Linked DNA regions of Homo sapiens. The protein of the gene in region 1 purifies or fractionates together with the protein of each later gene. This does not show direct contact. Each region holds a gene or a part of one and is shown on either strand. Other genes may lie near its edges. The genes, in order: LGALS7B and DDX19B.

Region 1 (15,998 bases):
CACTATTGTCCTGTGACCCTGCCAAATCCCCCCTCTGCGAGAAACACCCAAGAATGATCAATAAAAAAAAAATACAAAAATACAAAAATACAAAATATTAAAATAAAATAAAGAAATAGTGCTCGCTTCAGCAGCACATATACTAAAATCTGGAATGATGCAGAGAAGATTAGCATGGCCCCTGCGCAAGGATGACATGCAAATTTGTGAAGTGTTCCATATTTTTTGGCCAGGTGTGGTGGCTCACGCATGTAATCCCAACACTTTGGGAGGCCGAGGCAGGCGAATCACAAGGTCAGGAATTTTTGAGACTAGCCTGGCCAACGTGGTGAAACTCTGTCTCTACCAAAAATACAAAAAATTAGCCGGGCATAGTGGTGGGTGCCTGTAATCCCAGCTACTCGGGAGGCTGGGGCAGGAGAATCGCTTGAACCTGGGAGGCAGAGGTTGCAGTGAGCCGAGATCGCGCCACTGCACTCCAGCCTGGCAACAGAGTGAGACTCCTCTCAAAAAAAAAAAAAAAAAGAAGAAGAAGAAAAGAAAAAAAGAAGATGGTGATGGATGGATAGAAGGGTGGATAGATGGATCTATGTGTGATAAAGCAAGTTGAGTAAAATGTTATATAGAATCTGGTTAGGGTATATGAGGTATTCATAGAATAATTCTTTTAACTTTTCTGCATGTCTGAAAAAATTCATAATAAAATGTTGGGGGAAACCTTTGCATACAAACTTTGCAAACATTGTATCATACAATGATATGAACTGTAAATTTTTTAGGAGTTAGAATGGTAATGAGGTTTTGTTTAAAAAGAGAGCCTGCCAGGCGTGGTGGCAGATGCCTGTAATCCTAGCTACTTGGGAGGCTAAGGTGGGAAGACTGTTTGAACCTGGGAGTTTGAGACCAGCCTGGGCAGCATAGTGAGACCCCATCTCAAAAATAAAAATTAAAAAATAAATATCATTTAGAATTATACACATATTTATGGATAAGATTATATAACACCTTTTAAAAATCCAATTTAAAATGGGCAGAAAATTTCGATAAACATTTCTGCAAAGAAGATATATAAACGGCAACCCATGTCATTAGGGAAATGCAAATCAAAACCACATGACATATCTCTTCACCAAGTGGTGAAGCCAACCTATTAGGATGGCTATAATAAAAAAGACAGATAGGTCAGGTGTGGTGGCTCATGCCTGTAATCCCAGCACTTTGGGAGGCCGGGGTGGGAGGATCACTTGAGGCTAAGAGTTCAGGACCAGCCTGGGCAACATAGCAAGAACCTGTCTCTACAAAAAATTTTTAAAAATTAGCCAAGCATGGGGACGCACACCTATAGTTCCAACTAATTGGGAGGCCTGAGGTAGGAGAATTGCTTGAGCCCAGGAGGTGGAGGCTGCAGTGAGCCATGATTTCACCACTGCACTCCAGCCTACACAACAGAACAAGACCCTGTCTCAAAAAAAAAAAAAAGACAATAACAAGTGTTGGAGAGAACATGGAGAAATAGGAACACATATGTTGCTGATGGTAATGTAAAATGTTACAGTTACTTTGGAAAATGGTTTGGCAGTTCTTTGAAACGGAACTTAAAAGAGTCATGTGACCCAGGAATTCTTTTTTTTTTTTTCTTTTTTGAGACGGAGTTTCGCTCTTGATGCCCAGACTGGAGTGCAGTGGTGCGATCTCGGCTCGCTGAAACCTCCACCTCCTGGGTTCAAGCGATTCTCCTGCCTCAGTCTCCCAAGTAGCTGGGATTACAGGCATGCACCACCACGCCCGGTTAATTTTGTATTTTTAGTAGAGATGGGGCTTTTCCATGTTGATCAGGCTGGTCTCGAACTCCTGACCTCAGGTGATCCATCTGCCTTGGCCTCCCAAAGTGGTGGAATTACAGGCATGAGCCACAGCACCTGGCCTGACCCAGAAATTCTCCTAGGTACTTACCCAAGAGACATGAAAACATGTTCACACAATAGGTTCATAGCAGCATTATTCATAATAGCCAAGATGTAGGAACAACCCAGATATCCATTATTCACCATGATGAATGGGTAAACGCGTATATTCGATCCACACATTGGAACAGCATTCAGCCATGAAAAGGAATGAAGTGCTGATGCATGCTATGACATGGACAAACCCTGAAAACATGATGCTCCGTGGAAGAAGCCAGATATACAGGGCCACATATTGTATGATTCCACGTGTGGAAAACAAGCAGATTCATAAATCCATACAGCTGGAAAGTAGGTTAGTGATTGCCAGGTGCTGGGGGAGGGGCAAGTTGGGGAGTGACTGCTTATGGGTATGGGGTTTCTTTTAGTTGTTCTTTTTTGTTTTGTTTTGTTTCTGAAACAGGGTTTCACTCTGTTGCTCAAGCTGGAGTGCAGTGGAGCGATCACGGCTCTCTGCAGCCTCGACCTCTCCAGCTCAAGCCATCCTCCTAGCTCAGCCTCCCGAGTAACTGGGACCACAGGTGTGTACCACCATGCCCAGCTAAAATTATTTTTTGTAGAGATGAGGTCTCCCTATATTTCCCAGGTTGTTTTTTTTTTTTTTTTTTTTTTTTTTTGACACAGAGCTTTGCTCTGTCACCCAGGCTGGAGTGCAATGGTGCTATCTGCTCACTGCAGCCTCCGCCTACCGGGTTCAAGCAATTCTCCTGCCTCAGCCTCCCACGTAGCTGGGATTACAGGTGCGTGCCACCACGCCTGGCTAATTTTTTGTATTTTGAGTAGAGATGTGGTTTTGCCATGTTGGCCAGGCTAGTCTCGAGCTCCTGAGCTCAAGTGATCCGCCCATCTCAGCCTCCCAAAGTGCTGAGATTACAAGTGTGAGCCACAGCGCCCGGCCTCAGGCTGGTCTTGAACTCCTGGGCTCAATCAATCCTTCCGCTTCAGGCTCCCAAAGTGCTGGGATTACATCTGTGAGCCAAGGTCTTTTGAGATGATAAAAATGTTCTAAAATTAGATTGTGTTGATGGATGCACAACCTTGTGAATATACTGAAAAACATTGACTTGTATACTTTGAATGGGTGACTTGTATAGCATATGAGTTATATGTCAATAGAGCTGTTACAGAAAGATCCAGGAGGATGGGGAGGAGAGAAGGGAAGCTGAATCATAAATTCTAAATTTCTTTGAAGACAAACTTAATAAAGAAGGATTTAGGTTGGGCACCATGGCTCACACCTGTAATCCCAGCACTCTGGGAAGCCTCGGTGGGAGGATCGCTTGAGCTCAGGAGTTTGAGTCCAGGAGTTCAAGACCAGCCTGGGCAACATAGCAAGACCCTGGCTCTACAAACACCCGCCCCCCCCAAAAAAATTAGCCTGGCACCATGGCACGTGCCTGTAGTCTCAGCTACTTGGGGGGCTGAGGTGGGAGGATGGCTTCAGCCTGGGAGGTTGAGGCTGCAGTAAGCCCTTATCCACAACTCCACTCAGCCTGGGCAACAGAGCAAGACCCTGCCTCAACAAAAAAAATTTTTTATTTAAAAATTTTTGATGAACTGTTACCGATGGAGGGTGTCCAGGTGCTTGGTCTCTTGAATGAAGAATTGGGCAAAACGCACAAAGCAAGGAAATAATGAAGCAACAAAGGCAGAGATTTATTGAAAATAAAAATACACCCCACAGTGTGGGTGCGGCGGAGCATAGGGGCTCAAGGGCTGGGTTACATAATTTTTTGGCATTTAAATACCTTCTAGAGGTTTCCATTGGTTACTTGCTGTACGCCCTATGTAAATGGAGAGGATGTTTCCTGTCATAGCTGAAGTGTGAATCAGCCTTATGTTCCCTGCCTCCAGACCCTATTTTCCTGCCTCAGAACCATTTGAGAATAAGTCGCAAACATGCTGCACCACCAAATACCTAACTCTATTTTCCACAAACAGGGACAAGTTCCCACATGTACACTGTCAGTCAACGGTGAAATTCAGGACATTAACACGGCTGGATCGCTACTGTCTAATCCGAAGACCCAACCACATTCACCACTTGTGCCAATAATGTGTGTTCATTTCACTGTATGTTTTGAAATGTATACCAGATGCATATATTATCTTTATGAAAAAACTGATATTTTAAAAACACTCGACACAGCCAAATGAAATAAGAGCGAACTCATTCAAGCAGGAGCCCCGGAGGACTGGGAGAAACCGGCCTCTCACAGGCCTCCTCACCAGAGCTGGGCTCGCTCCTGGCCACCGCCCACCCACTCCAGGGCCGGACACGGGAAGGGACCGCCCAGACCGAAGGTCGCAGGGGCCTAAAACCCCGGGTCCTGAATGCGCCTGGGACCTGCAGCGAACCTGGCGTCCCCACCTGACTCCAGAATCAGATTCAGGCCAGGCCAGGAACCACCCCAGCTTCCTGCATCCGCCTTGGTCCAGGCAGCAATGCGGAAGGCGGACGCCAGGGGGTCGGAGGCTCAAGGGCGGGGATCGAGACCCAAGGCCTGGCGCGCCCACCAAGATGTGGCTCTGCACTAAGGTTCCGGAACAGCCGGCCCTGAACACCCACGTGCAGCTTCCGATCGCAGCCCTGGCCTGGCTCCTCGGTCCCCGGTTGAGAGACCCGCGACCGCTGCAGGGTGCCTCGCCGAGGGTGGGGGCTCGAGGCGCACAGTGCTCCCAGCCTCTCCCACCCCAACCCCGCCATTAAGGGAAGCCCCAGCGACGCCCTGAACCCTGAAAGTCACACTGGGGCCGGGGCTGCACTTGGCGTCCGCTTCCCCTCCCGTCACAGTGACCAGGGCTAGGACCGGGGTCCGGGCCGTCGGGGAGAGCGGAGGGCGCGTGGGAATGGGGCTCGCTGCGCCAGGGAAAACCCACGCCGTCCTTCGAGTCCTCCCAGCTGTTCCGCAGAGCCGGGGCCGCTGCCATCGCGTCTGCCCCGAGGGTGCGCAGGCGGGTACCTGTCCCGACTCGGGGAACAGCGGGAGCCCGGAGACGCCCGTCGGGCTTCCCAGCCCCACCTGGGACGTCTCTAGGGGCGGGAGGCCAGGAGAGAAGAGGGTGGGAGAGATGAGCTGCAGGGGGATACGGGACCCAGGGACCCGGGATCTTATAACACGCTTTCCACCCGTAGGATTGGGGCCCACAAATGACCAGAAAGGTGGGACTCATTCGCCCCCTTTGCAGATGGACCCATGTTGGCGCCCCTTAGATCTGCAGTGGGGGCACCAGGACCTGCGGTGAGCGCCTCTGCGCCCCAAACGCCAGCAGGTCCGCCCGACCGCATTCCCAGCTGGCTTGCTTTGCACAAATGCTGCGTCAGGGCACGCCCCACACCCACTCCTTCCCAGATCGCGACCCTCACGCCTTCGCAGACAGAAAGTGTCCTAAGCACAGGCAGGCTCAGAGCCCGCCTCCGCCTCGGATTCGCTGTGTGGCCCGGAGCCAGTATCTTGGCCTCTCTGGGTCTCAGTTTGCTCATCTCAGTGAATGGGACACAGACACAGTCGCGCTGCGGGCTAACGCTTTATTTGCCAGCCAAGGCCCCGGGCCCGCCTGGGCTTCTGCTCAGAAGATCCTCACGGAGTCCAGCTGCACGTCCCCGCCCACCTCCACCAGGCGCACGCGCGCCAGCGGCAGGCGGTGGCGGAAGTGGTGGTACTGGGCGTCCCCAACCACGGCCTGCAGGGGAGGGTCGGTGGTGAGGATTCCGGAGGCCCGTGCTGGGTGGCCCTGGGGAAATCACTCATCCCCTCTGGGCCTCAGTTTCCTCACTGGGAAAATGGGGCTATTGTTCATTCTAACTCTTGCGTGAGGATCAAACGAGTTGACTGTGTGGCACAGTAAAAAGCGGCTTTTTTAGTGCTGGTAATGGATATTCTCATTTCAGCGACCATTACCCGCTATTAAAGCGCAGAGGAGGGAGGTGAATTCGCGTAAGCTGTGGGTGGTGGAGGATCTGCCGCCACTCCCACCCGCCAATCCTTGCTAGGACGAGTTCCTGGGCGCTGTTTCCAACCCATCCCTCCCCATGCCTCAAACCCCGGACCTCAGGAAGGAATGAACTGGGAGTAGGGTCTGGGATGGCGAGTCTGGGCCACGCCTTCCCGCTAGGACGCCCACCCCTTGGACACTTGGCTGGTGCTCGCCTCGTCCTGACCCTGCTGTCTCTCTGTCCCTCGGACCCAAGTGGGAGTTGTTTAGGCGAGAGAGAGGGTCGAAGGACACCCTTCTCCGCCTTGGCCACGACTTCCCTACCCCCCTCACCCCGCCCCGAACCTCCCTGCCTTCCACCAATAGCCTGGCTTTGCCCAACCCTCTGCTCCAGGGACCTAAGTCTTGGCGTCCACGCCCCTGTCGCAGAGACGCACCTTGAAGCCGTCGTCTGACGCGATGATGAGCACCTCGAAGGGCTGCCCGCGCTGGAAAGGAACGCCCGGCCCGCGCTCCTCGCGGCCCCAGGAGCCTTGCTCCTTGCTGTTGAAGACCACCTCCGACGTGTCCAGCCGGGGGTTGAAATGCAGGGCGGCATCGGAGCCCTGCTCCTCCCCGCACAGCAGGTTTACATGGAACCTGGAAGAGGGGGATGGTGGCCGTCAGGGCTCAGAAACCACCCAGACCAAGAAATGTTGAGGGTGAGGAATACCGATGTCTACAATTTACTTTGAATGAATAAGTAAATGAAATGTTGGCTGGGTGCAGTGGCTCACCCTGTAATCCCAGCACTCTGGGAGGTGGAGAAGGGAGGATCGCTTGGGCCCGGAAGTTAAAGACCAGCCTGGGCAACATAGCGAGACCCCACCTTACAAAAAAACGAAAGAACAAACAAAACATAAACCGCCCAGACCAAAGTGAAGGTCTTATGGGCTGGCACTCCCCATTCCCAGAGTACCCCCAAATTAACAGGGACCTGAAGACAGGCACACACCGCAGAAGGAGAGGTGGGCGACTAATGACCAGGGAGCTTAGATTCCCAAGGCAGCCAAAATATCATGAGGCCCTTGGCAGAAACCTACCCAGACCAAACTCACTACGCTTAGGGCAGGGTGCCCTCATTTCCAAAGAGCCTGGGAGCTGCCCAGGAGGTCTGGGTGATAGCCAGGGTGCTCCTGATGCTCAGGGAACCCTCAGCTTCTACAGGACAAAGAATAATACCAGGAACCCCAGTATTTCCAGGGTACCTCAGAATCCAGAAGGCCCGAAGTTCCTTAGCCAGGAAGTCAAAGGATGGCTTGGCAAGGACTCCCAGGGTCCAGGGTGTCTCCAGGACTTGGAGTATTTCCAGAGTTCCCTGGGACTCAGACATGGAAGTCATAGGACTATATCTAGGAACCCTGAGATTACCCAGGGACCTCAAATGCTTAGGGAAACTTAGGGACCCCAGCCACAAAGGCACGGGGGCAAATACGAATACATCAGATTTGAGGTCAGAAATGGCCTCGGACTCCTAGCCTGGTGGATACAGGTGGCCTCGGGCCCCTACTTCTGGACTGCAAAAATTGGGAGTCAGCTGATCCTGAGACCTGTACCCTTTACCCCTAGGGCCTGGGGCCTCACCTGCTGGCATTGGGAGGAACCAAGCCGCGAATTCTCAGCACCGTGCCAGGGCGGATGCCCTCGGGCAGTGAGGACTTGTGGGGGACGTTCTGCAAGAGTGGGGTGCAGGGGCCACTGTGAGCCGGTGAGACCGAAGGAGGGAGGCAGAAGGTGGGTCACCCCTCAGAGGAGCCGACCAGGGCTGAGACTGGCAGAAATCAGTGGAAGAGGAAAGGGTGGCGGAGAGGCAGGAAAGAGACCAGAAACAGACAGGGAAACAGATGGGGAGAGCAACAAAGACAAACAGAAAGATCCTCAAAGAGGGCCCCAGAGGAAGCCACAAAGAGGTAGAGGGGACAGTCGGGATGGGGGTTACCCGGAGGCCACAGCCCAGGCCAGTCCGTGGCACACTCACTGCCCACTTGCTCCTTTGAAAGAGGAGCCCCCAGCCCCCTCCCTGCTTGGCCCCGCCCCGGGCCCCTGGAGCACTCACGGACATGGCTGGGACCGGGTTGGGCAGCCGTGGTGGTGGGGCCTGCTGGGGACCTTAAATAAAAGCAGGGCGGGGCTGGCCCTGATGACTCACCCCACCCCTTCCCACCCACCACCCACACCTGGCACGGACCCTGGCCCTGGGGCAAGCCTGGCGAAGTGGGAGTGGCGCCTCTTCTTGGGGGCCCTGATCCCCCCATCACCCAGAGCCCGGGTGCACTGCCCCTCTCCTAGGAGCTGATAATAAGAGCCACCGCCCCTCCACCCCTGTCTTCCCACTGCCTGGCACACAGGAGAGTCTCTCATGCTCATTTTATCCACAGACATGTTGGGTCCTGAGAAGCCAAGCCCAGCGGGAACTCTAGACCCTTCTCTCCAGCTGAGAACCTCCTGCCTAGACTGGAAATGTCTGCGCTGAAATCCCTGCTTCTAAGTCTCCAGTGGAACAGCAGCCACAACAACGACGATAGTGCCAGACAGGGGGACTTCACAGGGTCGGAGGGCGGCCTGGTTGGCTCAGTGCTGCACCCCTGGGTCCTGGAGTGTGCCGGGTTCATGGGAAGTCCTCAGTCAGGAGGGGTGAAAGGAGGGGATCCACTAGGACTACGCTTGTCATTTCCCAGGCCCTTGGGCTGCCCAGGATATGCAGGAAATCACTGATTGGGACCCCACCATTCCAACAGAGAGAAGCATGGGTCACCCCCATTGTACAGAGAAGGAGGCTGAGGCTGGGATGGGAAGTGATTTTCCACAAGCCGGGCAGGACCCATTGCCCCAACCTCTGCCTTTCCTCACCTCTGGGCGTGCCTCTCCTGTGGGTTCTGTCTCTGGGGCTGGCTGTCTGGCTCTGTTTGTCTCTGTCTATAACTGTCTACCGCGTATTCCTGTCCCACTTCTCTCCTTCAAGTCTCTCTTGTTCCTCCTTCCAGGACTGTTACCATCTTCCCACCAATTTTGCAGGTCAGGATGAGGTGGGTTTTAGGGTGGTGGGTGGCCTAGCATTCCATCACCACCTAGATCAAAAGCAGAGCAAGGTGGGGACCCTCCCGCCAGCCCCAATATAGCCCGCTTGGGCCCAAGACTCTAGAAGAGAATCCAGGGTTGGGGAAGTAGACTGGGGGAGGCGGGGGGGGGGGGGGGGGCGGGCAGGACTGAAATCTGTTTCTGAAAGGCAGGGATGGTGTGGGAGCTGAACAGAAACCACTCCTGGCTGGGCATGGTAGCTCACGCCTGTAATCCCAGCACTTTGGGAGGCCAAGGTAGGTGGATCACTTGAGGTCAGGAGTTCAAGACCAGCCTGGCCAACATGGTGAAACCCCTTCTCTATAGAAAATACAAAAAATTGGCCAGGTGTGGTGGTGGACACCTGTAATCCCAGCTACCTGGGAGGCTGAGGCAGGAGAATTGCTTGAGCTGGGGAGGCGGACGTTGTAGTGAGCCGAGATCACACCACTGCACTGCAGCCTGGGCGACAGAGCTAGACTCTGTCTCAAAAAATAAAAATAAAGCCTGTAATCCCAGCACTTTGGGAGGCCGACGCGGGTGGATCACGAGGTCAGGAGATCGAGACCATACTGGCTAACACGGTGAAACCCCGTCTCTACTAAAAATACAAAACAAAATTAGCCGGGCATGGTGGCGGGCACCTGTAGTCCCAGCTACTCGGGAGGCTGAGGCAGGAGAATGGCATGAACCCGGGAGGCAGAGCTTGCAGTGAGCCGAGATCGCGCCACTGCACTCCAGCCTGGGCAACAGAGCAAGACTCCATCTCAAAAATAAATAAACAAACAAACAAATAAATAAATAAAAATAAACCACTCCTAGCAATGCAGCAGCCCTCCTGGACCTTTTCCACTCCCCACCCAACTCCTGCACTCCTGCCCCACCCAGCAGGCTGCTGAGAGGCCTGGGCAGAGGCAGGCTGGCAGTGGAAAGTTTGGGTGGAGACACCAGACCCAGAACCATCCTCCACCCTCTTTGTCCCAGGCCCCCAGCCTCTTGCCCCCTCCCCACACACTCCAAGGCACCAAGGTGGGGGACCAGTTCCTAGGGACGTGAGCTCAGAGAGGGAGGCTTGCAGCTGCATTTCAGTGGGAGCTGCAAGCACCCCCATTCTGCAGAAGACAAAACTGAGGCCTAGACAGGGACAGCTTCTCAGCCAAGGAAGCGGCCAGGCCCTGGGCTCCACAGGGGTGTCTGTGCCAAGGACATGTCATGGGCACGGACAGAGAGGACAGCAGGGTGTCCGGTGATCACACCACCAGCGCAGCTCAGTTAGTTCCCGAGAATGTTCCCTTGAATGGTGAACTCCATCATTCTAACATTATTGACCATTCTAAAGAACACACTCCTCACATTACTGACGCCTCATGCTGTGTACCGTGTTTCCCAGGAACTCAACTTTTTAGTGATCGCTTCACTGTGGCTGGATGTAACTTCACATGCAGCCAACATGCTGCAAGTCCCAACGTGCCTTTGCTGACTGGCCAAAGCTTTCCATTCACTCTATTATTAGCCTGAAGTCCTGACTCCTTTCTGGTAACAGATCTGCATCCTTGATTGCATCCTTGATGGGTTTTTGTTGTTGTTGTTGTTGTTTGTTTGTTTGTTTTTGAGACAGAGTTTTGCTCTGTCACCCAGGCTGGAGTGCAGTGGCACGATCTCGACTCACTGCAACCTCTGCTTCCCAGGTTCAAGTGATTCTCCTGCCTCAGCCTCCTGAGTAGCTGGGATTACAAGCATGTGCCACCACTCATGGCTAATTTTTGTATTTTTAGTAGAGACAGGGTTTCACCATGTTGGCCAGGCTGGTCTTGAACTCCTGCCCTCAAGTGATCCACCCACCTCAGCCTCCCAAAATGCTGGGATTACAGGCATGAGCCACTGCATCCAGCCCTTGATGAGTTCTTATTCAATTGTGTTATCTTTCTCATTAGTTGTGCAATAATTTTTTTTTTTTTTTTTTTTGAGACAGGGTCTGGCTCTCTCTGTGATCATGGCTTACTGCAGCCTTGGCCTCCTGGGCTTGGGAATCCTCCCGCCTCTGGAGTAGCTTGGACTACAGTTGCACGCCACCATGCCCAGCTTTTTTTTTTTTTTTTTTTTTTTTCCTAGAGAGGAGGTCTCACCATGTTGCCCAGGCTGGTCTCAAACTCCTGGGCTCAAGCGATCCTCCCACCTTGGTCTCCTAAAATGTTGTGATTACAGGCCTGGCCACGGTAATATTTGTGTGTCTTTTTTCGGTTTTAAATAACTAATGTGTTTATTTCCCAATTGTTATTTCATTGAGGTATTTTTCCCATTAAATAAAAGGTTCAGATTTTGTTGTTGTTGTTGTTGTTTTGAGACAGGGTCTTGTTCTGTCGCCCAGGCTGGAGTGCAGTGGTATGATCTCAACTTACTGCAACCTCTGCCTCCCAGATTCAAGTGATCCTCCCACCTCATCCTCCTGAGTGGCTGGGACTACAGGAGTGTGCCACCACACCTGCCTAATTTTTGTATTATTTTGTACTGATGGGGTTTCGCCATGTTGTCCAGGCTGTTCTCAAACTCCTGGACTCAAGTGATCCACCTGCTTTGGCCTCCCAAAGTGCTGGGATTATAGGTGTGAGCCCCTGCTCAGGGTTCAGATTTTAATGGAATAGTTCAATGAGTTTTGACACATATAGTCACCTGTGTAACCACCTCCCCAATCAAGTTTCCTGGTGCCCCTAGAAACAGTCACTGCTCCTTCTGCCACATGAAGCCACTGTCACTCCTGAGCAGTTAGTAGCCACAAAGTTTCCTTTGATCCATTGTGGTGGCATGTGCCTGTAGTCCCAGCTACTCGGGAGGCTAGGGCAGGAGGATCACCTGAGCCCTGGAGGTGGAGGCTACAGTGACCCAAGATCACACCACTGCACTCCAGCCTGGGTAACAAGGCGGGCGGATCACCTGAGGTCAGGAGTTTGAGACCAGCCTGGCCAATGCGACAGCGTGGCGCCTGCCTGTAGTCCCAGCTACTGGGGAGGATGAGGCAAGAGAATCACTTGAACCTGGGAGGCGGAGGCTGCAGTGAGTTAAGATCGCACCTCTGCACTCAAGACTGGGTGACAGAGCGAGACTCGGTCTCAAAAAAGAAAAAAAAGGCCAGGCGCGGTGGCTTACACCTGTAATCCCAGCACTTTGGGAGGCCGAGGCGGGCGGATCACGAGGTCAGGAGATCGAGACCATCCTGGCTAATACGGTGAAACCCCGTCTCTACTAAAAATACAAAAAATTAGCCAGGCGTGGTGGCGGGCACCTGTAGTCCCAGCTACTCAGGAGGCTGAGGCAGGAGAATGGCATGAACCTGGGAGGTGGAGCTTGCAGTGAGCCAAGATCGCGCCACTGCACTCCAGCCTGGGCAACAGAGCAAGACTCCAAGATTCCGTCTCAAAAAAAGAAAAGAAAAGAAAAGAAAAATAAGTTCATTTGCCGTGAAAATGAGAAAGTGGGTTGGGACAGACTGATTTTTCTGATTTTAGGCCTCTTTCAGGATATAACTTAGTTGAAAAGTAACTAATCGCACACTAAGTGTTTGTAGGGATTTAAAACCCCAGGTTCTGTCAGTGCCATTTTGTTAGTGATATTTTGAGTTATTGTTTTTTGTTTTATTTTTGATTTTTTTTTAGTGATTGCTTCACTGTGGCTGGATGTAACTTCACATGTAGCCAACATACTGCAAGTCCCAATGTGCCTTTGCTGATTGGCCAAGGGTTTGCACATTAACTCTGTTATCAGCCCGAAGTCCTGACTCATTTCTGATAACAGATCTACGTCCTTGATGGGTTCTTTTTTTTTTTTCTTTTGAGATGGAGTCTCACTCTGTTGCCCAGGCTGGAGTGCAGTGGCTCAATCTCAGCTCTGCCTCCTGGGTTCAAGCGATTCTCTTGCCTTGGCCTACTTAGTAGCTGGGATTACAAGCATGCACCACCACTCTTGGCTGATTTTTGTATTTTTAGTAGAGATGGGGTTTCACCATGTTGGCCAGGCTGGTCTCGAACTCCTGACCTCAAGTGATCCACCCACCTCAGCTTTCAAAAGTGCTGGGATTACAGATGTGAACTACTGTGCCTAGCCAAGGGTCTGGCTATGTTGCCCAGGCTAGTCTGGAACCTGGGCTTAAGTGATCCTCCAACTTCTGGCCTCCCAAAGTACTGGGATTACAGGTGTGAGCCACCATGCCCTGTGGTTTTGGTTATTTTTTAAACACAGTGAAGATACTTCAGGGACTCCTTTGGTTTTATATATTAACATTCCAGTGATGAAAATGATACAGGTAAAAATCTTTTTAGTGAATTCTAACTGTTCCCACAGTTAAAGACATTTACCCACTATGTAACTAATTATATCTTTCCAAGTAATTTGGTAACCACCACTGAAGATTGGCTTACTCAGCTTCTAACTCACTCCCCAGCGGGCCCACCTTTTTTTTTTTTTTTTTTTTTTTTTTTTTGAGACAGGGCCTTAATCTATTGCCCAGGCAAGATCATCATGCACTGCAGCCTCAACCTCCTGGGCTGAAGCAATCCTCCTGCCTCAGCCGCCAAAGTGGCTGGGACTACAGGCATGTGACACCACCCCCAGTTAATTTTTTTTTTATTTTATTTTAGTAGAGCTGATGCCTCACTATGTGGCCCAGGCTGGTCTCAAACTCTGGAACTCAAGTATCCTCCTGCCTTGGCCTCCCAAAGTGCTGGGATTACAGGCGTGAACCTCCGCACCCAGCCTGGCCTGCTTTCTTGCATTAGGCAGTTAAAAACTACATTTCCCAGAGTTATTTGTAGCTAGATTCACATAGGACTGGGTTTCCCCAAGCTGAGTTTGCACCCCTGGAAAACTCTTTTTTTGAAGACATGCCCTCGTGGCCAGGTACTGTGGCTCACACCTGTAATCCTAGCACTTTGGAGGCTGAGGTGGGCAGTTTGCCTGAGCTCCAGAGTTCAAGACCAGCCTGGGCAACATGGCAAAACCCCGTCTCTACTAAAATACAAAAAATTAGCCTGGCATGGTGGCACGCACCTGTAATCCCAGCTACTGGGTAGGCTGAGGCACAAGAATCACTTGAATCCAGAAGGTGGAGGTTGCAGTGAGCAGAATTTGTGCCACTGCACTCCAGGCTGGGTGACAGAGCAAGACTGTCCAAAAAGAAAGAGAGAGAGAAGGAAGGAAGGAAGGGAGGGAGGGAGGGAGAGAGGGAGGGAAGGAGGGAAGAGAGAGAGAGATGAAAGAAAGAAAGAAAGAAAGAAAAAGAAAGAAAGAAGGAAAGAAAGAAAGAAAGAAAGAAAGAAGAAAGAAAGAAAGAAAGAAAGAAAGAAAGAAAGAAAGAAAGAAAGAAAGAAAGAAAGAAAGAAAGAAAGAGAAAGCCAGCCAGCCAAGAAAGAAGTGGTCTTGCTCTGTGGTTTTGCCCTGTCACCCAGCCTGGAGTGCAGTGGCACCATCATAGCCCACTGCAGCCTAGAACTCCCAGGCTGAAGCAATTTTCCTCAGTCTCTGGAGTAGTAGGTAGGACAACGGTTGTGTGCTACCACACTTGGCTAATTTTTTCTTTTCTTTTCTTTTCTTTTTTTTTTTTTGAGACGGAGTCTCGCTCTGTCGCCCAGGCTGGAGTGCAGTGGCGTGATCTGGGCTCCCTGCAAGCTCTGCCTCCTGGGTTCATGCCATTCTCTTGCCTCAGCCTCCCAACTAGCTGGGACTACAGGCGCCCGCCACAATGCCCGGCTAATTTTTTGTATTTTTTAGTAGAAACGGGGTTTTACCGTATTAGCTAGGATGTTCTCGATCTCCTGACCTCATGATCTGCCCGCCTCGGCCTCCCAAAGTGTTGGGATTACAGGCGTGAACCACCGCGCCTGACTCTTTTCTTTTTTTGAGACAGGATCTCACTCTGTCACCCCAGCTGGAGTGCAGTGGTGTGATCTCGCCTCACTGCAGCTTCAACAGCCCAGGTTCAAGCAATCCTCCTGCCTCAGCTTCCTAAGTAGCTGGGATTACAGGCATGTGCCACTGTGCCCGGCTTTTTTTTTTTTTTTTTTTTTTTTTTAGAGACAGGGTCTCACTGTGTTGCTCAGGCTGGTCTTGAACTCCTGGGCTCAAGCGATCTACCAGCCTCAGTTGCCCAAAGTGCTGGGATTACAGGTGTGAGCCCCCATGCCTGGCCCAAAACTGGCTCATTTTTAAATTTTTTTTTTTGTAGAGACAGGGTCTTCCTCTGCTGCCCAGGCTGGTCTCAAACTCCTGGCCTCAAGGAGTCTTCCCAGTTCAGCTTCCCAAAGTGCTGGGATTACAGGTATCAGCCACTGCACTCCACCACCTGCAAAACTTAGAAGGTGAAAATGAGGTAACACTTACGGGAGGGAGATGAGCCTTCTGGCTAGTTAGGTGATGGAGGTATTTATTTTTATCTAGAACAGCCTAGGAAGCTCTGGCCAGGGAATGCTCTCCGCATCCACCCTCTAGCTTTGCAGCACGGAAGCTTATTCCCTAGTCCTCTGAAAATTCTGTAAGCTATTGCCGGGCATGGTGGCTCATGTCTGTGATCCCAGCACTCTGGGAGGCCAAGGCGGGCGGATCACCTGAGGTTGGGAGTTCGAGACCAGCCTGACCAACATGAAGAAACCCCCTCTCTACTAAAAATACAAAATTATCTGGGTATGATGGCTCATGCCTGTAATCCCAGGTACTCGGGAGGCTGAGGCAGGAAAATTTCTTGAACCCAGGAGGCGGAGGTTGCAGTGAGCCAAGATCGTGCCATTGCACTCCAGCCTGGGTAACAAGAGCGAAACTCCGTCTCAAAAAAAAAAAAAAATTCTGTAAGCTGTCATAGCCGCTAATAATCTCTGTAAACTAGCGGAGGAGGGTTCTGTTGCCAGCAACCAGCAACCCCAACATGACAGTGGGAGAAGTGGCTGATACAGGCAGCAGAACTTAAAATGAGGGCGTGGCTGGAGGAGATAGAGGAGAGGCTGATAGGAAGGACTCCTG
Region 2 (15,927 bases), on another chromosome or scaffold:
ATACACTTAGAAAAAAAACACATCATTAGTCAACGTAGAGATAAATATGTGTTTCAAGTAGTTCTGAGAGGTTTTTTGTTTTTTTAATTATTATTTTTTAAATTTTTATGTATTTATTTTTTGAGACAGAGTCTCACTCTGTCGCCCAGGCTGGAGTGCAGTGGCGCAATCTCGGCTCACTGCAAGCTCCACCTCCTGGGTTCACGCCATTCTCCTGCCTCAGCTTCCCGAGTAGCTGGGACTACAGGCGCCCACCACCATGCCCAGCTAATTTTTTTGTATTTTTTTGGTAGAGATGAGGTTTCACCGTGTTAGCCAGGATGGTCTCGATCTTCTGACCTCGTGATCCGCCCGCCTCGGCCTCCCAAAGTGCTGGGATTACAGGCATGACCCACAGCACCCGGCCTGTTTTTTTTATTTTTTAGTTCTGAGAGTTTTGACTATTTTAACTAACTTCTTGTTAGGTCAGTTTTGTTGTTGTTGTTGTTGTTGTTTGTTGTTGTTGTTGTTTTTGAAATAGAGTCTTACTTTGTCACCCAGGCTGGAATGCAGTGGTGTGTACATGGCTCACTGCACCCTTGACCTCCCAGGCTCATGCAGTCCTCCCACCTCAGCCTTGCAAGTAGCTGGGACTACAGGTGTGCACCACCACACCTGGCAAATTTTTGTATGTTTTGTAGACATAGGGTTTCACCATGTTGCTCAGGGCAGTCTCAAGTTCCTGAGCTCAAGCTATCACCTGCCTTGGCCTTCCAAAGTGCTGGGATTATAGGCATGAGCCACTGCACCCGGCCATTCAGGTCAGGTTAAATTGTCATTGTTTTAACCTATTAATGTGCCTAAGAGGGTTTGTTAGGAGTAGGTAGCTTTGACATTTTCTTTTTGGCTTGAGTTTGCATCATAGAGTTATCTTTTGGATAGAACAGAAACTCATAATAATGAATCCAGTGATAATAAAAACTCAGGTATGAAATGATTAACTCTTGCTGTTTTTAGCAGGCCCAAACTAGCCATTTTATTAACCTTACAACAACAAATTCCTGCATTTTATGAAACAGAATCTTGAGACCCTATTATTATGACATTATGGTGAGATTAAAGTGTACAGTTCACTGATGGTTGGTGTATTCAGAAGTGTGTAGCTTATATCACAGTCAATTTTAGAACATTTTCATCACCCCAAAAGGAAACTCTGTACACATTAGCAGTTACTCCCTGTTTCCCTACAAACTCCCCAGCTCTAGGCAATCACTAATCTACTTTCTGTCTCTTTAGATTTGCCTCTTTTAAACATTTCATATAAATGGGAACATACGGTATGTGATCCTTTGTGACTGGCTCCTTTTATTTAGTATAATGAACTAAGGTTCATTAGTTGTAGCATGTATCAGTACTTTATTCCTTATTGTTGCCAAATAATATTCCATTGTGTGGATATACCACATTTTATTTATCCACTTATCAATTTCTGGACATTTGGATTATTTCTACTTTTTAGCTACTATGAATAATACTGCTTTTGATTAATGTACAAGTTTTTGTGTGGACATATAGTTTCAATACTCGGGTATATATCTAGAAGTGGGACTGCTGGATTATATAGTAATTCTGTATTTAACTTTTGAGAAAGTGCCAGGATGTTTTCCAAAGCAGCTGCATCATTAATCTTTAAGATTAATATTGTCTATGAAATAATATGTCTTTTTTTATTTTTTATTTTTTGGAGACAAGAGTCTCGCACTGTCTCCCAGGCTGGAGTGCAGTGGCACCATCTCGGCTCACTGCAACCTCTGCCTCCCGGGTTTAAGCGATTCTCATGCCTCAGCTTCCTAAGTAGGTGGGATTACAAGCACGTGCCACCATGCCCAGCCAATTTTTCATATTTCAGTAGAGATGGGGTTTCATCATGTTGCCCACAGTGCTCTCGAACTCCTGAGCTCAGGCAATCCATCCATCTCGGCCTCCCAAAGTACTAGGATTACAGGCGTGAGCCATCACATCTGGCCATATGTATATATATGTGTGTGTGTGTGTGTGTATGTATATATGTGTGTGTGTGTATATATGTGTGTATTTTTTTTAATAGAGATGGGGTCTCATTCTGTCACCCAGGCTGGAATGCAGTGGCAAGATCATAGCACACTGTAACCTGGAACTCCTGGGCTCAAGCAATCCTCCCACCTCAGCCTCCCTGGTAGCTGGGACTATGGGCACATACCACCATGCCCAGCTAATATATTTATTTATTTTATTTTAAAATTTATTTAAATTTATTATTTATTTATGTATTTATTTTTATTTATTTATTTATTTTGAGACGGAGTCTCACTCTGCTGCCAAGGCTGGAGTGCAGTGGCACCATGTCGGCTCACTGCAACCTCTGTCTCCTGGGTTCAAGTAATTCTCCTGCCTCAGCCTCCTGAGTAGCTGGGATTACAGGCACCCACCACCATGCCCAGCTAGTTTTTATATTTTTAGTAGAGACAGGTTTTCACCATGTTGGCCAGTCTGGTCTCGAACTCCTGACCTCAGGTGATCCACCTGCCTCGGCCTCCCAAAGTGCTGGGATTACAGGCGTGAGCCACCACACCCGGTCTATTTATTTATTTATTTTTAAGACAGAGTCTCACTCTGTTGCCCAAGCTGGAGTGCAATGGTGTGATCTTGGCTCACTGCAACCTCCAACTCCCAGGTTCAAGTGATTCTCCTGCCTCAGCCTCCTGCGCCACCACACCTGGCTAATTTTTTTTATATTTTTTTAGTAGAGACAGGGTTTTACCATGTTGGTCAGGCTGGTCTCGAACTCCTGACCTCAGGTGATCAGCCTGCCTCAGCCTCCCAAAGCTCTGGGATTACAGGAATGAGCCACCATGCCCAGCCTATTTATTTATTTTTTAGGAGATGGGGTCTCACTATGTTACCCAGGCTTGTCTCGAACTCCATGAGTTCCAAGGATCCTCCCTCCTCGGCCTCCAAAAGTGCTGGGATTCAAGTCACAAGCCACCATGCCCTGTCAATATTTTTATTTTTAATCTTTATAGAGGTGGAGTCTCACTATGTTGCCCAGGCTTGTCTCAAACTCCTGGCCTCAAGGGAGCCTCCCATTTCAGCCTCCCAAAGTGCTGGGATTACAGGTGTGAGCCACTGTGCCCAGCTGTTTTTTTTTTTTTAAAGTTCTAGGGTGCATGTGCAGGATGTGCATGTTTGTTACATAGGTAAACATGTACCATGGTGGTTTGCTGCACCTATCAACCCATCACCTAAGTATTAAGCCCCACATGTATTAGCTCTTTTTCCTAATGCTGTCCCCCACTGCCCTCCCCCATTAGTGTATTCTTTATCCTTCAGAATTAGTGAAGGATTTTTACTGCTTTATAATGATTTCTTTTTTTTTTTGTTTGTTTTTCAGTCGGCTTTCTCCAGTTGAATGGTTTCCTTTTTGTTAAGTTGCTTTTTTCTAATCTCTTTAATGTGTTCCCTTTCTTTTTCCTCTTTCCCAACACCAAAGCAGAAAGGGACCAGAAACTTCTTGTCCATTTCCATGAATAGAAATGGGAGGCTGGGCGCGGTGGCTTATGCCTGTAATCCCAGCACTTCGGGAGGCCGAGGCGGGCAGATCACGAGGTCAGGAGATCGAGACCATCCTGGCTAACACGGTGAAACCCCGTCTCTACTAAAAATATAAAAAGTTAGTCGGGCATGGTGGCAGGCGCCTGTAGTCCCAGCTACTCCGGAGGCTGAGGCAGGAGAATGGCGTGAACCTGGGAGGCAGAGCTTGCAGTGAGCCAAGATCACGCCACTGCACTTCAGCCTGGGCGACAGAGCGAGACTCCATCTCAAAAAACAAAACAAACAAACAAACAAAAAGAAATGGGGCTCCTGGCTGGGTGCAGTGGCTTACGCCTGTAATCCCAGCACTTTGGGAGGCCGAGGCGGGTGGATCACGAGGTCGAGAGTTCGAGACCAGCCTGACCAACATAGTGAAACCCCGTCTCTACTAAAAATTCAAAAATTAGCTGTGCGTAGTTGCACACGCCTGTAATCCCAGCTACTTGGGAGGCTGGGGTAGGAGAATTGCTTGAACCCAGGAGGCGGAGGTTGCAGTGAGCCAAGATCGTACCACTGCATTCTAGCCTGGGCGACAGGGCAAGACTCCGTCTCAAAAAAAAAAAAAAAAAAAAAGAGAAATAGAAATGGGGCTCCTCCATTCTCAACAAACCACCAATTAAAACATTTTTTTGTTCTCTCCTCTCTACCCTCCTTCCCCTTTCGCCTGTTCTTGGACTTAGAGGGACAACAGAAATGCGGCCTAATGCGTAGTTCACACTTATAATTCTAGCACTTTGGGAGGCTGAGGCAGGAGGATCGCTTGAGCCCAGGAGCTCAAGACCAGCCTGAGCAACACAGTAAGATCCCAACTCTACAATAAAAGATTAGCTGGGCAGGCTGGGCGCAGTGGCTCATGCCTGTAATCCCAGCACTTTAGGAGGCCAAGGTGGGCGGATCATGAGGTCAAGAGATTGAGACCATCCTGGCCAATGTGGTGAAACCCTGTCTCTATTAAAAATACAAAAATTAGCTGGGCATGGTGGTGCATGCCTGTAGTCTCAGCTACTTGGGAGGCTGAAGCAGGAGAATCGTTTGAACCCAGGAGGCGGAGGTTGCAGTGATCTGAGATAACACCACTGCACTCCATCCTGGCAACAGAGCAAGACTCCGCCTCAAAAAAAAAAAATTAGCTGGACATGGTGGTGAGTGCCTGTAGTCTCAGCTACTTGGGAGGCTAAGGCAGGAGGATTGCCTGAGCCTTAGGAGGTTGAGGCTTCAATGAGCCATGATCATGCCACTGCACCACTCCAGCCTGGCCAACAGAGTGAGACCTCGTCTGCAGAAAAAAAAGAAAGAACCATTAGGTTGTGATTTTCATTTTCTTTTTACTAGATGATGTCTTAGGCCCTGCTTGATATTTTATGATTAGGGTTGGCTTTAGCTTGAAAGGTTACTTACTCACGCCAGACTTTCCATCTATCTAATCCCTGTGCTGGGGTCCAAGACTTACAGATGCTTTCTGACCTTTAAAAAAGTCTTTTTTGGCCAGGTGCGGTGGCTCATGCCTGTAATCCCAGCACTTTGGGAGGCCGAGGCAGGGAGATCACGAGGTCAGGAGATTGAGAACATCCTGGCTAACATGATGAAACCCTGCCTCTACTAAAAATACAAAAAAATTAGCTGGGGGTGGTAGCGGACGCCTGTAGTCCCAGCTACTCCGGAGGCTGAGGCAGGAGAATGGCATGAACCCGGGAGGCGGAGCTTACAGTGAGCTGAGATCAGGCCACTGCACTCCAGCCTGGGCAACAGAGCGAGACTCTGTCTCAAAAAAAAAAAAAAGGCTTTTTTGTTTTGTTTTGTTTTTAATAAAAATGTACGACTAGAAAGGCCGGGCGTGGCAGCTCATATCTGTAATCCCAGCACTTTGGGAGGCTGAGGCAGGCGGATCACGAGGTCAGGAGATCAAGACCATCCTGGCTAACACCGTGAAACCCCATCTCTTAAAAAAAAAGAAAATACAAAAAATTAGCCGGGCGTGGTGGCGGGCGCCTGTAGTCTCAGCTGCTCGGGAGGCTGAGGCAGTAGAATGGCGTGAACCCGGAAGGCAGAGCTTGCAGTGAGCTGAGATCGCGCCCCTACACTCCAGTCCAGGTGACAGAGCAAGACTCTGTCTCAAAAAACAAACAAACAAAAAATTTACGACTAGAGCACTTACTTTGCTCTGTACTACATCCAAAGGCCAAAAATAGAAATATGCTACTCTGGGCACATTTCCTGTGGGGTAGCCCTGCTCCTCAAGGAGCAGTAGAAAACGAAATAGGCCCTGTCAGGAAGGTATTTGCATTCTAATAGAGGAGATAAGACCTGCTAGGATATCCCTAATATACAGTATTTGATCAAAGTCTTAGTAATTATTCTTTGAAATGTCTCTTTCCTTTCTATTTCCACTTCAGCCCAGTGGGTATTTTAATTACACAGTGTGCCACAATGCTTCAGGCTGTTCCCAACTACAGTATCAGACACCAGCAAAAGGTGACTTGAATGTGAGGCTGCACATCAGCATACTGTGGTCTTACGGCTCTAACGTATCCTGCAGTATGACTGATTCCTACCCACAGATGCTTTTCTTTTCTTTTCTTTTCTTTTTTTTTTTGTGAGACGGAGTTTCACTCTGTTGCCAGGCTGGGGTGTAGTGGCGTGATCTTGGCTCACTGCAACCTCCGCCTCCTGGGTTCAAGCGATTCTCCTGCCTCAGCCTCCCAAGTAGCTGGCACTACAGGCATGCACCGCCACGCCCAGCTAATTTTTGTATTTTTGGTAGAGACGGGGTTTCACCATGTTGGCCAGGATGGTCTCGATCTCTTGACCTCGTGATCTGCCTGCCTGAGCCTCCCAAAGTGTTGGGATTACAGGCGCGAGCCACCGCACCTGGCTTTACAGATGCTTTTCATCACAGTCCTCCCTTCCCAGTGTTCTCCAAAGTATGACTGCATTTTTCAAAATCTCTTTAAATTTCCTCTTGTTTGAAATATGATTTGGAATGCAGCGATTCCCCCCCACACACAAAAGAAATATGAGAGAATGACAACTCTAATGATATTCTACAAAGAGAGAAAGTTTATAATCAGGGCATTAAGCAAACTCACAAATTACAATTCTCTCACAGAATTTTAAGTAGAAGGTACAGATTTGGAGCATTTTTTTCCACCGATGTATTTACGGGAAATTTTGTTTATTCTCATCAGACATTTAGTAAACGGAACAACCCAATGAATTGGTCCTAATGAATATACCTTGAGAATGGCTATTTTATCCCCAGCTTCATTAGGGAGGCTCTGTTGATTCCAAATCTTTTTAAGTGCTTTTCCTGACACTTTCCCCCTCCCCCATATTCTCCATTTAGTTGAGCAACTTGCATCTTAAGGAAGAGAAAATCAAACCAGATACCAATGGTAAGTAACTAATAGCTAGTTTGAAAACAAATGTGATTTCCTTCAGTATTTTTGTTTTGGCATAACAACTGTCTGGAAAAAAATTTGTATTTGTACCAGGCAGGGCATTGGCAGATACTGGTACCATTTGATTTGTAAATCAACAAACTGGATTGTATGACCAAAGTGTTTTTATTTATTTTTTTGTTTCTGTTTACTTTTTAAGAGACAGGGTCTTGCTCTGTTGCCCAGGCTGGAGTGCAGTGGTTCAATCATGGTTCACTGGAGCCTCAACCTCCCAGACTCAAGTGATCCTCCACCTCAGCCTCCTGAGTAGCTGGGACTACAGGCACAACCCACTACGCCCAACTAATTTTTATTTTTTATTTTTTATTTTTTTGAGACAGAGTCTCGCTCTGTTGCCCAGGCTGGAGTGCAGTGGCTCGATCTCGGCTCACTGTAAGCTCCACCTCCCGGCTTCACACCATTCTCCTGCCTCAGCCTCCCGGGTAGCTGGGACTACAGGCACCTGCCACCACGCCTGGCTAATGTTTTGTATTTTTAGTAGAGATGGGGTTTCACTGTGTTAGCCAGGATGGTCTCAATCTCCTGACCTCATGATCCACCGGCCTTGGCCTCCCAAAGTGCTGGGATTATAGGTGTGAGCCACTGTGCCCAGGTATTTTTGTTTTTTTATAGAGATGAGGACTCCCTGTGTTGCCCAGGTTGGTTTCTAACTCCTAGGCTCAAGCAGTCCTCCCGCCTCAGCCTCCCAAAGTGCTGGGATTACAGGAGTGAGATATTACACCTGGTTTCAAAGTGTTTTTAATACAAGAATGAGGATTGCACACTGATAGCAAGGGTGTGGGGGGAACAAAGAATGAGGCTACTTAAGTGGGACTAATTACTAACCATCGGACTACATTGACAAAGACTAATTTTTTTCTTAATGTTCTCAATTTGGGATGAGATAGACAAAGTATGAGCAATCTGACAGTTTACCTATCCTAATTATTCTGAAATCATATTTATCCAAAGTTAAGATTTCCATTAAATTATTGTTGATGTACTTAATATTACAGGAAGGAAATGTAACATTTGCCTTTCTCAAAATTCACTTAAATCTTTTTTGTATGATTTTATATAACCACAGTATCATTCGACTATAAATTTATATTAATCAATTTATAGGCCGGGTGTGGTGGCTCACACCTGTAATCCCAGCACTTTGGGAAGCCAAGGCTGGCGGATAACCTGAGGTCAGGAGTTTGAAACCAGCCTGACTAACATGGTGAAACCCCATCTCTACTAAAAATACAAACATTTGCCAGGTGTGGTGGTGCACCCCTGTAATCCCAGCTACTCAGGATACTGAAACAGTGGAATCTCTTGAACCTGGGAGGCAGAGGTTGCAGTGAGCTGAGATCGCACCACTGCACTCCAGGCTGGGTAAGAGTGAGACTGCATCTCAAAAAAAGAAAAAAAAAATTTATATGCATGAATTTTTTTTGTTGGTCTTACTGCTCATTTGTTATATACATGAATTTTAATGGCATTATTGTGTTCACCTATTGATAAAATACGATTTGCATAGATATTCCTCTGTTGAGCATCAAGGTGGTTTCTGATCACTAATTGCTCTAATCTTTCTATAATATTTAAGAAGTATTGATTCAATGAGGGAAATAACAGGTTTTGAGGTACGGAGAGGAGACCTAGAATAGGAAAGAATATGAGCAACAGAGGCCGGGCGCGGTAGCTCACGCCTGTAATCCCAGCACTTTGGGAGGCCAAGGCAGGCGGATCACGAGGTCAAGAGATCAAGACCAGCCTGGCTAACATGGTGAAACCCTGTCTCTACTAAAAATACAAAAAAAATTAGCTGGGCGTGGTGGCGGGTGCCTGTAATCCCAGCTACTCGGGAGGCTGAGGCAAGAGAATGGCGTGAACCTGGGAGGCAGAGCTTGTAGTGAGTTGAGATCGCACCACTGCACTCCAGCCTGGGCGACAGAGCGAGACTCCATCTCAAAAATAAATAAATAATAAAATAAATATCTATCTATATATATATATATGTGAGCAACAGTGTTTTACACCTTTGTTTATTTAGGGACAATAAAATGTTTTTATCAGCGGCTCGGTTTCCTCATTTATTTTTTGCTCCCCAGGCCTTTACAAAAACTTCTAGTGTCATAGAATTTGAATTGTCTCAACTGTTGGGTATGGGATGCGATTTTGAATGATGGCCACTTTGTGTCTATAAAGGTGCTGTTGTCAAGACCAATGCCAATGCAGAGAAGACAGATGAAGAAGAGAAAGGTAACACAGCCGTGGAGCTTTATATAATAACAAGCTTCTACATTCTAAGAAAGTGGATTGTTATGAGGCTTCATTTTTATACCCAGTTTGGCTTGACTTTAATAGGCGATACAGTGCTAGCATAAAGGTTCAATATAGGGGCCGGGCACGGTGGCTTACACCTGTAATCCCAGCACTTTGGGAGGCCGAGGTGGGCAGATCACGAGGTCAGGAGATCGAGACCATCCTGGCTAACACGGTGAAAACCCGTCTCCACTAAAAATACAAAAAAAAAAAAAAAAATTAGCCGGGCATGGTGGCAGACGCCTGTAGTCCCAGCTACTTGGGATGCTGAGGCAGAAGAATGGCATGAACCCGGGAAGCAGAGCTTGCCATGAGCCGAGATCGAGCCACTGCACTCTAGCCTGGGCGAAAGAGCGAGACTCTGTCTCAAAAAAAAAAAAAAAAAAAAGTTCAATATAAATAGTCAGTAGGTGAAGGAGTTCTAATGGTTTACGTTTAGAGAAATTTTACATTTAACAACTGAACAGTTGAATAGGGCATTATAAAAAATTTTCAGTTGCATCTCTATTGTCCAGTAAAATTAAGCTTAATGTTATTTTGACACATTTGACATGGATGACGAGACCAACTTGTCCAATATTAAGGTACAGACTTTGTTAATTCCTGTTTTTTTTTTTATTGTTGTGATTGCTACATTAATTACTTTAGGTTTATATATAGTACAAATTGGGGAGTAAATATGTGGGTCTGGATAGGAGGAATAGATAACTGCAGGAAAAGAGGGCTGTTAGAATAGAGTCTGGAAAAGAATATGAGGCCTAAATGGGTGATGTATCATAACTTTTTTCTTTAATAAAACTATTTTAATTTATAAGTCAAAACTATGACGTACCTTGAATTTGAATGTTCAGTACATTATTATTTAAAATACAAATGGCAGTTGAATTAGAGTAAACGCCTGGTAGGTTTCAAGGACTTTTTAAAATTCTTTGCTTTCTTTTTCCTGACAGAGGACAGAGCTGCCCAGTCCTTACTCAACAAGCTGATCAGAAGCAACCTTGTTGATAACACAAACCAAGTGGAAGTCCTGCAGCGGGATCCAAACTCCCCTCTGTACTCGGTGAAGTCTTTTGAAGAGCTTCGGCTGTGAGTATTTATTCACCTTCTGACTCTTCCCCTTTGCACTGAAATAGAGATCCTAGGTCTGTTATAGATATCTTTTGACCACAACAGAGCAGTTTTAGCTAACCAAGTTTTTTTTTTTTTTTCGAGACAGAGTCTCACTCTGTTGCCCAGGCTGGAGTGCAGTAGCGCGATCTCGGCTCACTGCAACCTCCGCCTCCTGGGTTCGAGTGATTCTCCTGCCTCAGCCTCCCAAGTAGCTGAGATTACAGGTGCACACCACCACGCCTGGCTACTTTTTGTATTTGTAGTAGAGATGGGGTTTCACTATGTTGGCCAGGCTGATCTTGATCTCCTGAACTCATGATCCACTTGCCTCGGCCTCCCAAAGCGCTGAGATTACAGGCATGAGCCACCGCACCCAGCTGCTAACCAAGTTTTATAAAAGAATTTAGCTGGGTGCCGTAGTGCACACCTGTAATCCCAGCACTTTTGGAGGCCAAGGTGAGAGGATCACTTGAGGCCAGGAGTTGCAGACCAGCCTGGGCAACATAGCGAGACCAGACTCCATCTAAAAAATATACATAAATACTGTAGATGCTTTGGGATATTTAGTAAAATTTCCAGATGATGGATAAAAGCTTTAGCTGTACTAACATGTATTCAGTTCACCACAGCTCAATTATTGTTGATTACAAACTATGTGTAGGCCAGGCATAGTGGCTCATGCCTGTAATCCCAGCACTTTGAGAGGCTAAGGCCGGCAGACCACTTGAGGTCAGGAGTTCAAGACCAGCGTGGCCAACATGGTGAAACCCTGTCTCTACTGAAAATACAAAAATTAGTCCAGGCACGGTGGCTCACGCCTGTAATCCCAGGACTTTGGGAGGCTGAGGCAGGTAGATCACGAGGTCCAGAGATTGAGATCATCCTGGCTAACATGGTGAAACCCCATCTCTACTAAAAATACAAAAAAAATTAGCAGGGCATGTTGGCGGGTGCCTGTAGTACCAGGTACTCAGGAGGTTGAGGTAGGAGAATGGCGTGAACCTGGGAGACGGAGGTTGCAGTGAGCCGAGATCGCGCCACTGCACTCCAGCCTGGGTGACAGAGCGAGACTCTGTCTCAAAAAAAAAAAAAAAAAAAAAAAATTAGCGGGGCATGGTGCCATGTACCTGTAATCCCAGCTATTCGCGAGGCTGAGGCACGAGAATTGCTTGAACCCGGAAGGTGGATGTTGCAGTGAGCCGAGACTGCACCTTTGCACTGCAGCCTGGGCAATAGATCGAGACTCTGCTCAAAAACAAACAAACAAAAAACTATGTGTAAACAGTAAAAGAGAAAAATCCTCCAGATATTTTGCTGCTTTCCTCAACCAAAGAGACTGTGACTTTCATCTTTAACTGTTTTTCTAGGAAACCACAGCTTCTCCAAGGAGTCTATGCCATGGGTTTCAATCGTCCATCCAAGATACAAGAGAACGCATTGCCACTGATGCTTGCTGAGCCGTATGTGTCCTATTACAACTCCATTTCATTTTAGATTTTCTATTTTTGAAAACTATTATTATTTTCACAGGCCAGCAAGGTGGCTTATGCCTATAATCCCAGCAACCTGAGAGGCAAGGCAGGAGGATCGTTTCAGGCCAGGAGTTCAAGACCAGCCTGGGCGATGTAGCAAGACCCTGTCTCAACAAAAAAAAAAACGTTATAAACTTGGCCAGGCATGGTGGCATGCAGCTGTAGTCCCAGCTACTCAGGAGGCTGAGGCAGGAGGATCACTTGAGCCCAGGAGTTTGAGGTTGCAGTGAACCATGATCATACCATTGTACTCCATTCTGGGCAACAAAGAAAGACCCTGTCTCGAAAGAGAAAAAGAGGAGGCTGAGGCACAAGATTTGCTTGAACCCGGGAGGCAGAGGTTGCAGTGAGCCGAGATCATGTCACTGCACTCCAGCCTGGGTGACAGAGCGAGACTTTGTCTCAAAAAAAAAAAAAAAAAAGTCAAGGGGGCCAGGTGCAGTGGCTCATGCCTGTAATCCCAACACTTTGGGAGGCCAAGGCAGGAGGATCTCTTGAGGTCAAGTGTTCGAGACCAGCCTGGCCAACATGATGAAACCCGACTCTACTAAAAAAATACAAAAGTTAGCCAGGTGTCATGGTGTGCTCCTGTAGTCCCAGCTACTCGGGAAGCTGAGGCACGAGAATCGCTTGAACCCCGGAGGTGGAGGCTACAGGGAGCTGAGATCACACCAGTGCACTCCAGCCTGGGCAACAGAGTGAGACTCCATCTCAAAAATGCAAAAAAAAAAAAGAAAAGAAAAAAAATCATCTGTAATCTCCCTCTCCCCACATTATTAACATTTTGGAGTGGAGACTTCTAGACTTTTCTCTATGTAAACATATAACTTTTAAAAAAGTTGACATATATGACCGGGGTGGTGGCTCATGCCTATAATCCCAGCACTTTGGGAGGCCGAGGCAGGTGGATCACCTGACGTCAGGAGTTTGAGACCAGGCTGACCAACATGGCTAAACCCTGTCTCTACTAAAAATACAAAAAAAAAATTAGCTGGTGTGGTGGCAGGCGCCTGTAAACCCAGCTACTTGGGAGGCTGAGGCAGGAGAATCGGTTGAACCTGGGAGGCAGGGGTTACAGTGAGCTGAGATCATGCCATTGCACTCCAGCCTGGGCAACAAAAGCAAAACTCCATCTCAAAAAAAAAAAAAAAAGTTGACATATGGCCGGGAGCAGTGGCTCATGCCTGTAATCCCAGCACTTTGGGAGGCCTAGCCAGGTGGATCACAAGCTCCGGAGATCGAGACCATCCTGGCTAACACGGTGAAACCCCATCTCTACTAAAAATACAAAAAATTAGCTGGGCGTGGTGGTGGGCGCCTGTGGTCCCAGCTACATGGGAGGCTGAGGCAGGAGAATGGCATGAACCTGGGAGGCGGAGCTTGCAGTGAGCCGAGATCACGCCACTGCACTCCAGCCTGGGCAACAGAGCGAGACTCCATCTCAAACAAACAAACAAAAAAAGGTGACATATAAATAATGTTTTACATGCTGTGTTTTTTAATTATATGATCATCTTCCTATGTTGGTAAATATAAGTTTATATCGTATATGCACCATGATTTCATTGTATTGATATATAAAAGCTATTGTGTCAAATATAATAGAAGCCAAACAGCTCTAGGAGACCTGAATAATACAGTTACTAAGGTGGTTTCCTGGTGCAGGGCATCTCCCACTTTCATAGGCATACAAATCTCATAGACATTTATTAAAATGCAGGGTCTGAATTTAGTAGGTCTAAGTGGGGACTGAGTGTCAACATTTCTAATAAGCTTGCAGGTGATGCTGATGCTGCTGGTTTCAGATCACATTCTGAGTACAAGATTCTAGAGCATGATGGAATTTTAATACAGATTGATCCTATATTTTATATGATTATATACAATTCTGCATATAATGCTAAATTCTGAATCTCTTTTTTTTTTTTGTCTAAAAATAGATATTTTAGGGCAAGTGTGGTGGCTCATGCCTGTAATCCCAATACTTTGAGAGGCCGAGGCAGGCAGATCGCTTGAGCCCAGGAGTTCGAGACCAGCCTGGGCAACATGGTGAGACCCTGTCTCTACTATAAATATAAAAAAGTAGCCAAGTATGGTGGCATGTGCCTGTAGTCCTAGCTACTAGGGAGGCTGAAGTAGGAGGATAACCTGAGCCCAGAAGATTGAGGCTACAGTGAGCAAAGATTGTGCCACTGCCCTCCAGCCTGAGCAAGAGTGAGACCCTGTCTCAAAAAATCATAAATAAAAATAAAAATAGATATTTTAGGTCTGTACTTTCTCAAAGTTTTTTGTTCTGTGTCATAACAGTGACATTTTCTCCAGATGGATAGTGTCTTTTTTTAAGCTTGGCACTTTGAGCATGCTTAGGGTAAATAAATGGAGTATTTATTACATGGTTTCATACTGATTGATCATTTATATTTGTGGATCTAATATTTTTGTAGATGCTAACTTTTTTTTTTTCTGGGAGATAAGGTCTCACTCTGTCACCTAGGCAGGAGTACAGCAGTGTAGTCATAGCTCACTGCACCCTGAGCACCTGGACATAAGCAATCCTCCTGCCTCAGCCTCCCAGGTAGCTAGGACTACAGGCACGTGCTGCCATGCCTGGCTAAGTTTCTTTATTTAATAGAGATGGGGTCTTGCTATGTTGCCCAGACTGGTCTTAATCTCGTGGCCTCAAGCAATCCTCCCACCTTGGCCTCCCCCAGTTTTTTTTTTTTTTTTTTGAGACAGGGTCTCACTCTGTTATCCAGGCTAGGTGCACTGGCACCATCTTGGCTCACTGCAACCTCTGCCTCCTGGGCGTAAGCAATCCTCCCACCTCGGCCTCCCACCCAAGTAGCGGGGGCCACAGGTGCAAGCCACCATGCCTGGCTAATTTTTATACAATTTTTTTTTTTTTGAGACAGAGTCTCGCTCTGTAGCCCAGGCTGGAGTGCAGTGGCGTGATCTTGGCTCACTGTAACCACCACCTCCCAGGTCCTGGATCAAGTAATTCTCCTGCCTCAGCCTCCGGAGTAGCTGGGATTACAGGCACGCTCCACCATGCCCAGCTAATTTTTTTTTTGTATTTTTAGTAGAGATGGGGTTTCACCATGTTGGCCAGGCTGGTCTTGAACTCCTGACCTCGTGATCCAGCCGCCTTGGCCTCCCAAAGTGCTGAGATTACAGGCGTGAGCCATCGTGCCCGGCCTAATTTTTATATTTTTATCAGAGACAGAGTTGTGCTATGTTGCCCAGGCTGGTCTCAAACCCCCCAAAGTGTTGGGATTACAGGTATGAGGCACCACACTAGGCTTTTTTTTTTTTTTTTTTTGAGACGGAGTTTCGCTCTTGTTGCCCAGGCTGGAGTGCAATGGCGCGATCTCGGTTCACCGCAATCTCTGCCTTCCAGGTTCAAGCGATTCTCCTGCCTCCACCTCCCAAGTAGCTGGGATTACAGGCATGTGCCACCATGCCTGGCTAATTTTGTATTTTTAGTAGAGATGGGGTTTCTCCATGTTAATCAGGCTGGTCTCGAACTCCCAACCTCAGGTGATCCGCCTGCCTCAGCCTCCCAAAGTGCTGGGATCACAGGCGTGAGCCACTGCGCCCGGCCTTCAGGCTTTTTTTTGTTTTGTTTTGGGGTTTTCTTTTGGTGGAGATGGGGTCTTACTTTGTTGCCCAGACTTGTCTTGAACTCCTACGCTCAAGCACGCTTCCCACCTTGCCTTCCCAAAGTGCTAGGGTTACAGGCATGAGCCATTGGGCCTAGCCAAGAAGCTCATTTTTAGATTGACAGTATTAGAAGAGACCAGCATTATTACTAGAATTATCTACTACCTTTCATCATTAACAAATATTTATTGAGTGCCTGTTATATAACAGATACTATGCTAGGCACTTGGATACATTAGTCAACAACGCAGACCAAAATTCCT

What was found.
Region 2: the proteins of LGALS7B (region 1) and DDX19B purify together in Homo sapiens (affinity purification with mass spectrometry; 2 studies listed by BioGRID). This does not show direct contact.

What each region holds. Positions count from the first base shown.
Region 1 is NC_000019.10:38,781,230-38,797,227, reverse strand, and holds LGALS7B (galectin-7), read right to left. Parts: upstream 8,029-15,998; 5' UTR 8,002-8,028; coding exon 7,996-8,001; intron 7,613-7,995; coding exon 7,524-7,612; intron 6,540-7,523; coding exon 6,338-6,539; intron 5,649-6,337; coding exon 5,535-5,648; 3' UTR 5,474-5,534; downstream 1-5,473. UniProt on the Homo sapiens protein: Could be involved in cell-cell and/or cell-matrix interactions necessary for normal growth control. Pro-apoptotic protein that functions intracellularly upstream of JNK activation and cytochrome c release.
Region 2 is NC_000016.10:70,305,657-70,321,583, forward strand, and holds part of DDX19B (ATP-dependent RNA helicase DDX19B), read left to right. Parts: intron 1-6,952; coding exon 6,953-7,001; intron 7,002-9,245; coding exon 9,246-9,299; intron 9,300-9,983; exon of another isoform or gene 9,984-10,312; coding exon 10,313-10,448; exon of another isoform or gene 10,449-10,486; intron 10,487-11,599; exon of another isoform or gene 11,600-11,717; intron 11,718-11,839; coding exon 11,840-11,932; intron 11,933-15,927. UniProt on the Homo sapiens protein: ATP-dependent RNA helicase involved in mRNA export from the nucleus.